2 separate regions of the Homo sapiens genome follow, and region 2 is linked to region 1. Evidence: fine-mapped expression QTL. A gene starts in region 1. The other region holds a variant in brackets. All regions are shown on one strand. Distances are from middle to middle.

Evidence for each region.
Region 2: its variant is fine-mapped to the expression of GJB2 in monocytes after LPS (Fairfax 2014, PIP 0.93).

Annotation. Positions count from the first base shown.
Region 1 is chr13:20,189,610-20,197,609 of GRCh38, reverse strand. GJB2 (gap junction protein beta 2) reads left to right here and starts at 4,672. Exons shown (of 2, transcript NM_004004.6): 1 at 4,672-4,827.
Region 2 is chr13:20,166,313-20,174,312 of GRCh38, reverse strand. No RefSeq gene overlaps it. Among named protein-coding and RNA genes, the nearest start is that of GJA3, 9.3 kb to the right of the region's middle. The variant C/T (reference allele first, on the strand shown) is at 4,000.

The DNA.
Region 1 (8,000 bases):
AGCAACACCAGACTAGAAGAAAAGCTTACCTATAGATTTTTCTGCCACCTCTTGAGTGCGTCCAGCTTTCCGACAAGTCTCAGTGCCATCTACTGTGCGCTCTGGGTATTGCAATTGCTTTTTTTTTTTTTTTTTTTTTTTTTTTAGAATGAGACTAAGTCAGAGAACACAAAGAACTTCTTTCCCCACAGTGGAGATGGCTCTGAAAGCGTTTAAGGAATAGCTTAGATGAGTGGCTAACACATTCTCCCGGTTCTGAATTCTAAGACCACAGACTCCATGTCCAGTCCCCAAAGAGAGGCTTTGCAAGCTACAGAATACCCCTCTGACTGGGACCTCAGGAGCTAAACTGACCACGTAATTGGTTCTAGAAAGTGAAACGTTTTAATTTGAAACATCCAAATGAGCATTTTGTGAAAAGCTACTGCCGTCCATCAAATACAACACAGCCAGGGAGTCATCGCTCTATTGCCCTTGTCAATCCTACATCTATAGTTTTTTTTGCTACAGCAGTTCATGAGTGTTGACTCTATTCTAACTTGTTCCAGAAGCCCTTCAAGATGATAGATAGCACAATATTTTTGTAGCCAGAGCTAGAATGTAGAGCTCTTTTTGGCTTCCTTGTGAATGATCCAGAATTTCCATGTTGGCAAGCCACCATAATTTACAGAATTTACTTTTTATATTCAATAGAAGTAAAAAAAATTTACCTATTTAAGGAGTTATAGCTCTGGATTCATTTCTGACCAAAATGTGCTTTTTGACACAAATACAATTGGAAATGTCTTTGTAATTTATCCACAGTCTGCCTAGATAATCATAAAAGAACTGCATGGATATATTTGTGAGTAAGAGCACGTGTCCATTCAGCAAAACCAAGGAGATCAACTAATTCTACCATTGCCTTGAAACGGAGACACATCTAGCAGTTTGAATTTCCCCCAAAAGATTGTATGTGTGAAAATAAGAATAGAATGAGGAAAATTTAAAAGCCTATATAATAATTTCAGTCACAACTTGGCAATTAGAATTTTATGAGATGTCTTTAATTTGGAAGCAAAGAACAATTAAATTATTGAAGGCTGGAATTTTTTTTTAACTCTTTGAATGGAACAACAGATTTTCCCCAAAAGATTTGACTTTAACAATTTTCAGAAAACATAAGTCAGGGTGTGGTTCAATTACACAGAGAGAAATTGTAGTGAAATAGTGTTCCCTGTAATAATTACCCACAAAGGAGCACAGTGGAGCCACTCCTGCATTAAAATTACAGTATCATATGTAAGTTATTATTAATTAACCAGAGATGCCAGGAGCTTGTCAGTTTCCAACTGCTATTTTGAGGAGAGCTAAAGTTTCTCTTTTTTTGCCAGTTATTATTATTATTAATATTTCAACAGCAAGGCAAGAAAAGGGAATGTGGTCCATTAACTAATGGCTCTTGAAAAGACACTCAATGAATCCAACTTGCCCTAAAACTGCCAAGTGGTAGGACAGTCTCTTCGCGTCTTGCATCATTTTCTGCCATCACCTACGTGTGATTCGTGAGTCGGAAATTCAACCAAGACATGTTTAATGTATATTTAGAGCATTCTTCCCGGCGGGAATTCACGGTGCCATTCCATCAGGCAGTTGGCAAGCAGTCACTTGAAATATTAAGAAATATGATTTGTGTCACACTGATTTATTGCAAAACAGCAACTTCTTTCTTTTTGGTTCATTTATAAAACAACTGTCAAATTAAAATGCCAAATAGCTTTAAACATTAGCATTTTCACCTTATAACCTTACAAGTGCATCACTTTAAACATCTGAGTAAAAGTTCAGCTCGATGACAATCACCTGGGATTTACCTGCATGGTACTAAGCATATATGTAAAAATATTACTGATGGGTATCTCTGGCACTCTGAAGTGACAAAGTGTAGCCTTCACAGATCTTTGTCAGTTAATCATCAATAGTTACCTGAAAAGTGCCCACTTGCCATCATTCAAGATCAACCAGGCAGACACCACAGTGAGTTTTCCATCAAAAAACCTTCTCTATCTGGTCAGTCTCTGCACGTCAATGAGACAAAGGTGTATGCTGCACGCAGCAGTACTATCCTAAGCTCCCTGTGTCCTCACCATGGGGCTGGGTGGCTGGGGTGGAGGAACACAGGATTGGGCTTCAGCTTCTCTAGGGACTGGTACATTAAGAGATGAAGACATAAAAGGTGAGAAAAACATGGTTTATTTCCAATGTTTCCATTTCTGTTAAAAGTAATGCTTTCAACAGAAAAAAAATGCAGCAATATAAGTGTGTAATTTACAAAATAATTTCAGGATTTCTTTAATCATTAATTTGTGGTGTCATCTGTTAACTGGATTTACGTCTAAGCTCATTTGTAAATAACTTCAAATATCCAAGCCTTCCCTCACCCTTTTCCCACCTCACCTCTCCTCCTTCTCCTCCCCTACACTGGAGGACACTATGTACATGCATATAATGTCCTGCCCTAGAGGAGTCCTGAGCCTACTTGGGAAGAAAACACCAACTCACAGGAAAACAGCAGAAATCACACAAAACAGAATAAAAGCAAGCGCTGATCTGTAAGTGAAGACTTAAGTGCTATAGGACTTCCAGCTACAAATCCTGAAAACACGGAGTGGCTGTGATAATACGACTAGCCAACATCACACAGTAATTTTGCACATAAGGAGAACTAAATCAAAGAAAACAAGGAAAAGAAAGTTGAGCCTATAATCGTGATACAGGCACTAAAATCTCAGGTGACATTTTTCAATGGGGGAAAGTCAGTCAACTTCCGATCTCCAAACCATCTTTACTAGCGAGCTTCCCACAATGGTTCTAGAACCTTCCTTCATTCCAACCCAACCAGGATTCCAACAGACTCATAAACACCACAGCCTTTGAGAAATTAAAGGGAGAACCCACCAACCGGCGCCCCACTCCCCACCCCAAGTCACCTCTGGCTCAACCAAGATGCGCTCAGGCCAAGAAAGCTGCCCCACCCCACAGGCTTTGCCTGTCATTTTTAACAAGCCGACTCAGCACATCTCTCAGATGGGCCATGCAAGGCTTTTCGCAGCTCCTGGGGCTTTGCCTCTTCATGAGCAGACACTCCCTCTTAGACTAAGACCTGGAGCTGGAAAGTAGGTGGTAACCGCGGTACAAAACTCACGCTCGTCCCTGCAGAAACTGCCTAGGTCGGCCCATGGCCACGGGGCGCCAATTTTTCAAGGAAAAGTCAATGCTAATAATGGTGGCAATCACGGGAAATCCATTCTGAGGCCAGATCTGACTTGTCAGGATTAATCATCATTTCCACTTAACTTCGAACTGACCTGGGTAAAAACGTGAGCGCGAGGGGACCAGGCTGCACCTCTGACCTGGCTCCCCTCTGCAAAAATCGCGAAGTGGGTGCCCGAGGTGGGGCGGGGGTTGGGGGAGACCTCCCCGGGAGTCCCCACCCAGCCTGCTCTGCACATCTTAGTCCCTCATCCGCTTGCGCTGTGCAAATCTGTCTTCTGTCATTTGTATCGCAAGACATCAAAATCCCCAACCAAATGCAAATACTGAGACCTCATAATCTGAGACAAAGTTTCACGGTATCCAGAAAGCCCCCAGCAGGTGTGCAGTGCAGAGCCAGCCCCCCAGCGGTCTTCCGCAGAATCCTATCAGTTTCCCCCTTTCGTGCTGTGTGCATCGAGCAGGAAGGGGCTTGGCAGGTTTTACCTGCCCTCTTTCCTTTCTGAAAAGTCTGGGCCTCCTCACCCCGAAAGGAGTCACCTCCTTGCAGTTCCCCAGTTGCGAAAAGAGGAGGAAGTTGGCTGGGCCGGGGGCCGCGGGGGGCACCCTCCGCAGATGGCGGGACCCCCCTGCCGGCCATGGCAAAAACGAGGCTTGTCTCTCCCACCGCCCCCAACCTTAGTCCTTGGCACATTGTTGAAAGTAATTGAATAAAATCGGAAATTCGAGAAGGCGTTCGTTCGGATTGGTGAGATTTTGAGGGGAGAAAGAAGCGGGGACTTCGCCGGCACCAGCGGCGCCCCCTCCTCGGCCACCGTTAACCCCCATTCCAGAGGGCACTGCCCCGCCACCCAGCCTAGGTCCCCCTGCGAGAGCCTCGCGGGCCCGCGCAGCCTCCGCGACTCGAACAGATCTTCAGTCCTTGGAGGAATGCCTGTTTCTCTAACAATAAAAAATTAAAGAAGCGCTCATAAATGCCAAGTCCTCTCGCACTATGCGGAGTACAGAGGACAACGACCACAGCCATCCCTGAACCCCGCCCACGGCACAGCGCCGGAGCCGGGGTCTGGGGCGCCGCTTCCTGGGGGGTCCCGACTCTCAGCCGCCCCCGCTTCACCCGGGCCGCCAAGGGGCTGGGGGAGGCGGCGCTCGGGGTAACCGGGGGAGACTCAGGGCGCTGGGGGCACTTGGGGAACTCATGGGGGCTCAAAGGAACTAGGAGATCGGGACCTCGAAGGGGACTTGGGGGGTTCGGGGCTTTCGGGGGCGGTCGGGGGTTCGCGGACCCGGGAAGCTCTGAGGACCCAGAGGCCGGGCGCGCTCCGCCCGCGGCGCCGCCCCCTCCGTAACTTTCCCAGTCTCCGAGGGAAGAGGCGGGGTGTGGGGTGCGGTTAAAAGGCGCCACGGCGGGAGACAGGTGTTGCGGCCCCGCAGCGCCCGCGCGCTCCTCTCCCCGACTCGGAGCCCCTCGGCGGCGCCCGGCCCAGGACCCGCCTAGGAGCGCAGGAGCCCCAGCGCAGAGACCCCAACGCCGAGACCCCCGCCCCGGCCCCGCCGCGCTTCCTCCCGACGCAGGTGAGCCCGCCGGCCCCGGACTGCCCGGCCAGGAACCTGGCGCGGGGAGGGACCGCGAGACCCAGAGCGGTTGCCCGGCCGCGTGGGTCTCGGGGAACCGGGGGGCTGGACCAACACACGTCCTTGGGCCGGGGGGCGGGGGCCGCCTTCTGGAGCGGGCGTTTCTGCGGCCGAGCTCCGGAGCTGGAATGGGGCGGCCGGGGAAGTGGACGCGATGGCACCGCCCGGGGTGCGAGTGGGGCCGGGCGCGCGCGGGAGGGGAAAAAGGCGCGGGCGAGCCGCCAGCGCGAGGTTTGTGGTGTCGCCGATGTCCCTTCGGGGTACTCTAGCGCAGCCGCCTGGCTACTTGACCCACTGCCACCAAACGTTTTAAATTCACCGAAAGCTTAGCTTCGAAGCAAAGCTCCGTTTCGCCGGTGAAGCAGGAAGCCTTCGCTGCAGGAACTGACCTTTACCTCTTGGAGCGGCTTCTGCAGAAAAATCCCCGGGCAGAGATTTGGGCGGAGTTTGCCTAGAACTAACGCGGAGCCAGCCGATCCCGGCCTACCCCGGGGCCAAGATTTCAGTGGCTTCCCTTTTTCCTAAACACTTCACGAGGGTCTGTTTCCGGGCTGTGCTCCCCGCCTAGAAGGAAAATTTTTAGGACCCTTGTTCGCGAAGAGGTGGTGTGCGGCTGAGACCCGCGTCCTCAGGACGGTTCCATCAGTGCCTCGATCCTGCCCCACTGGAGGAGGAAGGCAGCCCGAACAGCGCTCACCTAACTAACAGCTGCTGAGAGCTGGGTTCCGTGGCCATGCACCTGGGACTGCCTTGAGAAGCGTGGTACGGCCGTGTCCCCATGTGACCTTAGAGTCCCTTTCGAAACTGCTGTGCACAGTCGGTCACAATTTCAGACACTGGTGAGAAGGGTGGAGGAACCCTCTGGGGACAGCCAGGCAAGGTCGACCACCCATCACCTAAGGGTGGAGAAATTTAAGGGGTGAAGAGTCCCTTTTGCCTTTTCTGGATCCTGGTGATTCACCTAGTGTCTTCCCTAAGGAACTGAACCAACTCCTCCGCTGGCCTCTGGCAGCCCTCCAGGCGGTGCAGGATGGCGTGGGCCCGGTAGGAAGCTGCATGTAACCGCCCAGGGTCGGGAGGCCAGGAGGGCAGCTCCTCCTCTGACTTGAATATTGAAAACAACTTCGTCCTGCTTCTGAGCCCCTCTTAACCCATGACCCCCTAGCCCATTGGGGAGTAAATCTTAATTTACTCCTCTTCCTGAAAAAGGATCTTTAAAACAGGTAGCTTCAACTCAAGCTTTATAAAATAACAATATAGGGTTTCTCGGAACTGTATTTTTCTCAGCTGATGGTAACTGGACAGGTCTGTAGAAGGGTGTATGACCTGGGTTTGGCAGGTGGAAGAGGGCAAAGGATAAACCCCTCCTCCTGCAGCCCCATATTCTTGGCCAGGTGTATTGTTGTAAACCAGGAGAGAGTTTACTTCGGGGAGTATCCTGTTTTCCACTCAGTGAGGGCCAATGAAGAATGTCTAATTCCATAAGATGCTTTTGTTAAAATCGGAATGTTGCTGTCCTCGGTGGTTCTGCTGTTGGGACGGGACTGGCCTGAGCTGTGGGTGCTGTAGCAGGACAACCAGCTCACCTAAGGGCCTCCCAGTCTGGATTATCAATGGGTCAGTGCTGAACCTGGGCTAAAATATTGTTTTTTCCAATGATGTTGTCTTTCCCAAGCTCAGTGAAGCTAAATGTTTCACAGGCCTATGTCAATCTGATGTAACTTTCGTGGCCACCTCTCTCCTGTTAGCCTCTGACCAAGGTGGCACTGGATGGTTTCTGCCTGACCTTGGTGCCCCGTGGCAGCGACTGTGGGTCATGAAAGACATTCACTACGAGCCTGCTTCTGGAGTCCATCAGAAAACGGGATGCAACTTGCCTAAAATGAGGAGAGGAGGATGCTTTTAAGAAAAAGAAGAAGGAGGATTCACTACCAGCTCTGAAGGGTGGAAAAGAGATGATTCATCCGGATTGTGGAGAGGGTGGAATCTTGTTTAGGAGAGCGTTGGTTGTGGCAGGCAGGGTGTAACTATGAATCAGTGAAGACAATTCACATCCTGGGATGAAAAGAAGGCCATGGGCTCACAGGAGATTATCCACTGGCCTCTCCACATCCGCTTGCAGTAAGGAGTGTGGGACTCTCCCAAGCTTCAGCGCTGAACTGCAATGCAGTGACGTCGCTTAGCTGGGCCAGTAACCGAGGGAGTTGAATTTTCTGTCATTTTAAAATAATGTGTCTTTTAAGAAACACTTTGAAATTAAAACCACAGCCCACAATTATAATGCACTGTTGCAGCACTTATCAAAACAGATATGCTAACTGAGCCATCAGTGCCAGCCTGACAGTGAGGCCACCAAGCCATCCACAAAGCCTACACGAAAGTCTGTGCTCACAGTGGCTTTTCTCCATGAAGAGGGCATTCCTAACCTCTTCCTTTCACGTAGGAGGAAGCAAGGTCCTTTGTAAAATTTTAACTCGGGGTGCCTCAAATGTAAACTTAACCACTGGTAACAACAGTTTCACTGCTACATGCCACGTCTGTGAAAATTCATTCAAGACATTAAGGAAAGTGGCTCAGCAGAGAGACTAGACATCTTATCCTCACGGTTCTCCTGTACTTGGCCTCTCAGCCTTTGAGCAAGGTTGGCCCAAGCTAGTATCGGCCCCAGTGGTACAGCCAAAACTTGAGACTGCAAATGGATGCAGCTGTTGAACGCTGAGTAACTTCTGCAGAGTCAGGAAGACCCAAGGAAGCTCTGCAGAGGATGCAGGGGTACGGTCAGAACCCCTGAGTGCCTTTCAGCTAACGAGGACTTTATGACACTCCCCAGCACAGCAAATTTTTATGATGTGTTTAAAGATTGGGTGAATTACTCAGGTGAACAAGCTACTTTTTATCAGAGAACACCTAAAAACACGTTCAAGAGGGTTTGGGAACTATACATTTAATCCTATGACAAACTAAGTTGGTTCTGTCTTCACCTGTTTTGGTGAGGTTGTGTAAGAGTTGGTGTTTGCTCAGGAAGAGATTTAAGCATGCTTGCTTACCCAGACTCAGAGAAGTCTCCCTGTTCTGTCCTAGCTAGTGATTCCTGTGTTGTGTGCATTCGTCTT
Region 2 (8,000 bases), 23 kb after region 1:
CCCTGTTCTCATATTTCTATGAGGATGCCCCCTGGTCGAATTCCACCTCAGTGTGCCCTCTCTTTCTCTCTCTCATTCACTCCATCGTTTCCTCCTCTCTAGGGGAGTAGAGACATAATTCATCCATGAGTCTGGGGGATGGAATTGGCCCTTTGAGGGCCAATGCCCTCTGCCCTCCTCTCCAGTGTGGCACTGCCTGAAGGCCTGGGGGTGGTGGGGTGTCCTGGTTCACCCTTGGCTGCAGCCGAAGCTGCCTGGGGCAGGTTGTGCCACCAAGAAAGAGGCCAGCAGCTGTGAGCAGGTAGTTGATTCTGTCTAGTTTAGAAAGGGGTATCAAGTCACTTTATCCTGGCTTTTGAAGCTGACATTTTTATCTGCCTGTCCTGTCTTATTTCTTGTTTCATTCTGAACTGTGGAGGGGAGCTCGGGGGTGCCCCCAACCAAACCCCAACATAAACTCCATGAACACACAGGACATCTCGGTGCCCATCAGTGCCAGGTGTCTGTTGAATCTGCATCTGCAGAATCAAGAAAGGAGTGGTTTCCTCTGCCTCAGGTGGCGGGGAAAGCTCCTTGGTGGAGAGGACATTTGAAGGAAGCCTTGAGGGACACTGGGTGAGGACGAGTAGAATTCGCTGAGCAGGCAGCAGGGCAGGCTGAGGATGCCAGGCGGGAGCCAGGGTGCAAGTGAGTGTTGAGACTCGCGGCAGCCATGGGGGAGGAAGCCCAGAAGCAACAGAAGTTTCCCAGCCCACCACCCACGCACATGGGCCCTGAAATGAAGAGAGAATTAACTCATCTTCCCAGAAAGTGCTAGGACCATACAGTACTCCACTGCAACTATACCATTTTACATTTCCACTAACAGTACACAAAGCCTCCAGTTTCTCTACATCCTCATCAGCACTTGTTATTTTTGGTTTATTTGATAATAGCCATCTTGATGGGTGTAAGGTGGGCTGTCATAGCGGTTTTGATTTGCATTTCCCAAAGGATTAGTGATATTGGGCATTTCTTCATGTGCCTATGAGTCATTTGTCTATCTTTGGAGAAATGTCTACTGAAGTCTTTTGCCCACTTTTGAATCAGCTTGTTTTCTGTTGATACTGTTATTGTTCAGTTTTAGCAGTTCGCTATATATTCCAGATATTAATTCCTTATCAGATATGTGATTTGCAAATATTTTCTCCCATTCTGTGGATTGCTTTCTCACTCTCTTTAGTGTCCTTTGAAGCATAAAAGTTTTTGATTTTCATAAAATCCATTTGTCTATTTTTTCTTTTATTGCCTGTGGCTTTGGTGCCATAACCAGGAAATCATTTGCCAAATCCAAGTTTGTGAAGTTTTGCCCTTTGTTTTCTTCCACAAGTTGAATTATTTTGGGTCTAACATTGAGGTTTTTTACTCATTTTGAGTTTATTTTTGTATATGGTGGAAGATTAGGGTCCAACTTGATTGTTTTGCATGTGGATATCCAGCTTCCCCCACTATATGCTGAAAAACTGTCCTTTCCTCATTGAATGGTCTTGGCACCCTTGTGGAAGATGACCATACATGTAAGTGTTTATTTCTGGCCTCTGTGTTGTATTCCATTGGTCTATATGTCTGTCTTTATGCCAGTACTAAACTGTGTTGATTACTATCACTTTGTAGTATGTTTTGAAATCAGGAAGAGTGAGTCTTTAATTTTGTTCCTCCTTTTCAAGACTGTTTTGGCTATTTGGAGTCTCTTGGGATTCCACTTGAATTATAAAATGGATTTTTCACCCATTATCTTTTGCTTTTGGCCTTAGCTAGTGTTATGTCCCTTGTTTGGGCCTTCCTTTTCCACCTCAAATCATTCAAAATGCAGCTCAATTCCCACCTCCAATATTTCCCTGACTATCCCCACCATATTGATCTCCCTCCCCTGCGCCGCTGTTCACCTATCTCCTGCACCACCCATTGGAGACAGCATCCCACCAACTCTTCTCCCCTGTCCTTACCCTTCAAGCCTCAGCTGAAATGTCACTCATCCTAAAGCAGGGCTCTCTGTTGGGCTTTCTTGTAACATCTTTTCTATAAAGAACTCACCGTGATTAGTAATTAATTTACTTATAAGTTAATTCTTACACACACAGATTCTAAGACACACAATTCTTTCCCATTCTAACACCTGTGAAATAGAGAGCCGTGCTTTACAATTGGCGACATCCAACAATGACAGTCAGGCTTTTACTTCAGTGGTACATACATGGTGATATGTCTTATGATCAACCGTACTTTAGATGCAGTGAAACACAGTACATGTTTTCTTGTGCATTTACCTGTTTAATGCTCATCTTGTTGATTGTAAGTTGAGAGAGAATAGACCCCCAACTCAGCTCACCATCACACCCCAGCGCCTTTGGCATAGTTCATGTGCTTGTCAGCCATTTGATGGGTTGATGAATTATAAGTTCATCAATCATATTAATGAACTTATCAACATCAACTCATATTGATGGATTATAAGCTACTAAACACATTACGCTTTCCCAGGAGCCCCATAATTCCTAGAACAGTGCTACCTGCACTCAGATGCTTACCCAGTGCATATTTAAGCTAGATAACATCTATCACTCAGCTGCTCTGTGCTCTCTGGTAGAAATAAAAGGATTAATAATGCCTCATTCTTTTAGAGGAAGAAAGCCAAGTAAGTACTGTCGGAGAACCCAGTGGTTCCTGCTTTCTTTTCCTTGGCAAACAATAGGCCTGGCCTTTGTAAACTGAAATCTACACACTTCAAATATTTTATTTTGCTTTTGTGGCATCACACAGTGCCTTGGGGACATTACACAGGGGCCATATTAGAAAGTGATGTCAACTTTTTTTCAAGAGGGTTGGTGATCCTATCTGTTAAGAAAATGACACATTTCTACACTCTTAATAGCTGCTAACCATTTATAAACACATTGTCCCTACATATCAAATAAAACAAATCTTGGATAAGCAGGAAATTAAATTTGTCCTCTTGTGAGGGGACACTGAGTTCCTGGTCTGGGCTTGTCAAGGATGAAAACATGGAGGAGGCGCTTGGGCCAGATGAGCACAAGTTCTTCAGCACCTGCCCTGTGCTGACAAAGGGGCCCGCAGGGAGGCAAAAAGAAGCAAGAAGAGGCTTCATAGGAACCAGGTTGTTTCATTTCTGTTTGTTTATTCTCTCCCAAACTCAAAAGAGGAGGCCTATTTTGCGGTTGATTCTTGCACCATTTGAGAAATTCACTCGTTATGTAAATGTTTCTATTCGTAGTAAGTAGCTTTTGCAAAGAAGGGGAAATAATGACATTAGTAGTGAAAGATTTTTTCCCTAATCTCTTGAGGATCAAAACCTGTGTAAATTACAATATAAATGTCACAGCAATGGCAAACTGCTATACAAGTTTCTAAGTAATAATAACGGGTGCCATTTTTTGAGCACCAACTATGCACCAGCACTGGTTTAGGCTACTTCATACACTGGGTCATGTTGATTCATCTTCGTAACAATCCTACGTAATCTCCATGTACATAAGCTCATGAAACGGGGGCAGTGTGGGCAAGCCACTTACCCCAGGGCAGAGAGCTAATAAGGGCAGACCAGTGATGGAAACTCAGACTTTCTCTCAATTGTCCTGAAGAAATAGGTGTATTCTACTTATCTAGCAACGGCTGCTGGTGGCAGGGAGTCTGCTGGCAGGAACTGGCTGGTCCTGCACCATCTCTGCTCATTCCTCCCATCACAAGGGGTAAGGGTGGGGAGGAAGGAAGAGTAAAAAGGACACTGTGGTGGTGGGGGCTGGTTACTGATGGAGAAGAGCCATCAGCGATGGGGACTGAGGGGAGGGAAAGAAGAAATGATACCCAGTCACTCGATTAATGACAGAGGTACGTTCTGAGAATTGTGTCATTAGCCAATTTTGTTATTGTGGGAACATCATAGGGTGTACCCACACAAACCAATGGAATAGCCTACTGCACACCTAAGCTGTGTGGTGTAGC[C/T]TATCGCTCCGAGGCCACAAACCTGTACAGCATGTGACTGTACTGATTACTGAAGGCAACTGTAACATAATGGTAAGAATTTGCATATCTAAACATACCAAAGGTATGGTAAAAATATGGCATTATAATCTTATGGTACCACCGTTGGATATGCAGTTCATCATTGACAGAAATGTCTTTATGACTGCATTAGGCAAAAGTGAAATTAAAAGGAAAGGATAGGAAAGACAAGTGAGAAGAAAATGTAGCCAGTAGAAGCCAAGAAAGAAAAGAGCAAAGGAGGAATCAAAAAGGTAATCCATGGCTAGGCATGGTGCCTCACGCCTGTAATCCCAGCACTTTGGGAGGCCAAGGCAGGAGGATCACTTGAGGCCAGAATTCAAGACCAGCCTGGCCAACATGCCCATTTCTATGAAAAATTTAACAATTAGCCAGGTGTGGTGGTGCACGCCTGTGGTCACAGCTACTTGAGAGGCTGGGGCAGGAGGATCACTTGAGCCTCGGAGGTTGAGACTGCAGTGAGCTGTGTTGGCACCATTGCACTCCAGCCTGCGTGGAAAAAAAAAAAAAAAGTAATCCATGAACAAATCCTGTTCAACCAACACCAAAAGCAGCAAAGCCTCCCAGGCTCAGTTCCTGGGTTCTGTGGCACCATCTCTCCGTCTGTCCTCCCTGTAGGACACAGGTATTTTAAGGAGCTGGAGAAGGGAGCCCAGGGCACATCTGTTCCTCCTCAGTCTTCTTCAGTCCCAGCCTCCCAAGAGTTCGCAGGGCTAGTCGCCTCACAGTGTCGCCCACCAGCTGACTCCAAGACGCACCCTTCCCTGCTGCACTTTACATGGATGGCTCGCTTAACAAATTTCCAGCATCCACCAGGTCCTCCAAAGGGTTTTATCTAACACTTCTAACATCCAGCCTTAATTTAATCTGAACTCTTCTTCCCTTCCAGGAAGTTACTTCCCATCACCTCATAGATGCATTTCCTGGCCACCTTCTCAGAGACACACTCCACAGACATCCCACCCACTACCTTTGGAAACCACCACATCCTGAAGCCACTTCTTGACAACTCTAGTTGGGTATATGTAATGGGTTTAAGCAAAAGCTGTTCTCCAGGAACTTCTGCCCACAGGTCATGGTTGTCCTTTTGGTGGACATACAAAGCCAGCCTAAACTTTTTGACACACACAAATATATACACACACATACATACACATATGACTGTGTTTACACACACACACACACAGCTGGTTAAGAGCAAGGGCTTGGGGCCGCAGATTCATATTAACATCCTGACCCTGCCCCATTCTAGCTGTGTGGCCTTCGGCAAGTTAATTAACCTTCCTGAGCCTCCGTTTCTTCATATGACCCTCACTGGGCTGCTGTGAGGATTAAGTGAGCTAATATATGTAAGTGTCTTGGCCCAGTGTCTGGCATGTAACCAGTACTCATTAAATGGACAGGGGTCTTCTCTGAGTCCTTTCTCTTAGGGAAATATTCCCACTCCCTTCAACCCCTCTTTATAGTTTGTGGTTTTTCAGTCCTCTCTGTATCCTTTTAAATGGGCCAGTCACCTTTTAAATGGGTGATGTTCCATTGTTTAAATAGATTGGATTTTTCACTGGACTCTGTCCAAAACTAAACACACTCCTGGAAACGTGGCTGGCACAGCAACAGTGGAGAGCCACCTCCTCGCTGTGGACACAACCGCCAGCGGTCAATCCGCTTCCCTCAACACCGTCATGTCCACACAGGGACCTGGGCTGCTGGATTCCTAATCAGTGACACTGAGCTTTTATATAACATCAAAGAGGGATTTGTGCTTATACTTCTTAAAAGGCATGTTTTTGTGGTTTGACTGTCCTCCTAGCCTGACACAGTCTGAGCCTCCTCAGGCGGCCTCAGGGGTTGGGATAGAGTGGAGAATTCAGGCAAGAATGCCAACCCTAGCTCCAGGCCTGGGACCCACAGGCCTGGGGAAAAGAGTGGTTGCCCCGTCTTGAGACAGCCGAAAACTGTGTCCCCAGGATTGTTGGTTTCATAAAAGCAAGTAGCTAGGGAGGCCACATTTACAGGGGATCACAGAACACTTGGGTAGGGGCTTGCTGTAGGTGTCATCAGGGAAGTGGGGGACGGCAGGAGGGATGTGGCCCAGTACGCAGATGAAGACAGGTGATCATCCGCTGGGCCACACGTGGCAGGGATATGGGCAGAGTGAGCTTGGCTGGCCCCAGGCTCCAAAGCTGCCCAGCCCCCGCTGAAGGTGAGGCCTCAGCTGGTGGGAATGTCACCTTCCAGGTGACTGGCTGGCTCCAAAGGCCTTTGCATGATCTCCAGGAGTTTGGAGGGGAGAGGCCACATTCCAAATCCAGCTTGAAAAGTGCTCTGTATCACCCTCAGCACTGAGGGGGCCAGAGTCTAGGAGGAAGGAGGCACAGGGTTGGGGGGCAGCCCTGACCTGGTGGCCGCACCTGCCAGGTCCCGAGAGACAACCCATCTCACACACATTCAAAAACACACACCAGGGAGCACATGGCTAAACAAATCGCACTAAACGCCAGGAAGGCAGAGGGGCTGGAATGCAAAACACCCCCTGAAAAATAAATCTCTGCTGGGGCACATTTCGAAGTTTTGCCTTAATCGTTCAGGTCGCCCTCCTGTTCTTCTCACTTTACAACTTCAGCCTGAGACACATTGACCACCTTCCACCAAAGTAGACCATGCTCTTGAATAAGTCACATATCCTTTCTCTACTTGGTTTCTTTAATTTTTGTTTATTTTCTTTTTGTAAGACAGGGTCTCACTCTGTCACCTAGGCTGGAGTGCAGTGGCAGGATCATAGGTCACTGCAGCCTCAAAATCCTAGGCTCAAAGCAATCCTCCCACCTCAGCCTCCCCAGCAGCTGGGGCTATGGCACATGTTACTGCCTTCAGCTAACTTTTTTTATTTTTTGTAGAGACAGGGTCTTGCTTTGTTGTCCAGGCTGGTCTCAAACTCCTGGCCTCAAGCAATCCTCCTGCCTCCACCTCTCGAAGCGCTGGGATTACAGGCATGCACCACCACACTCTACCTGTTTTCTTAATTTTTAAAATGAGGGTAATAGTGTTAACACTTCCCCGGAAGATTACTTCCCCAGAAGAAATGATAAAGCACCACCTTTTCCCTCCCAATTTTCATGAAAATAAACTCCTTCAGCTTGTGAACACCACCAAATTTAAATTCTGTCATTTGAGATCCTCAGGCAAGGCAAATTCTCAGACCCTGTGAGGCTCACCAGGAGGCGAGGAGCTCTTCTTGTACCTAGGGGTGGTGAGGAGTGGATCATCTTGCCCAGTCGGGCTGGGCGCAGGCATGGGGATCCTCCAGGACCGTGGCCCATTCCCTCAGAACCACAGGCTGACGACTTCACATCACTGATGTTAGCCCTTTCTAGATGTTACCACGACTTTTACTGATTTATGGATGACTAAGTTCTTTTCCTAGTCAACCTCAGAAGTCTCACAGTGCTACACAGAAAGAACTAGGTTGATACCTGCAAGGTCAGAGCCCATACTCCCATAAGCTATTTACCAGCAGTGACACATGTCTGCAAACCATTTCACCTCCCCATCTCTCAACGTATTCCTCTGTGAAATGGGAAATGATCCCTGCCCTTCCTTCCTCACACGTTTGTTTTGAAGCTCAAATAAGATCAAGCACTTTGAAAACGTTAAAACACCAAGCAGTGGTGAAGGGTTATATTATTATTATCAGAAACAAGTCTGTTCTCAGCCAAGGCTGTCTTTATTTCTGAAGTACGTGAAATACCAGGACAAGGCTTGTTCTACCTGATGATAACTGACAATAACTGAGCAGACAAGGACTCTGACACTCTTGCTTGTCTATGGTTTATCAGTGGTTCTCCTACCTGCTTTAGGAATCACACTGACCCTCTTCCACATGAGGAGATCTAATTTTCTAATTCGGCTGCTGCCCAAGTGCTTTTTTGGTTTTTGTTTTT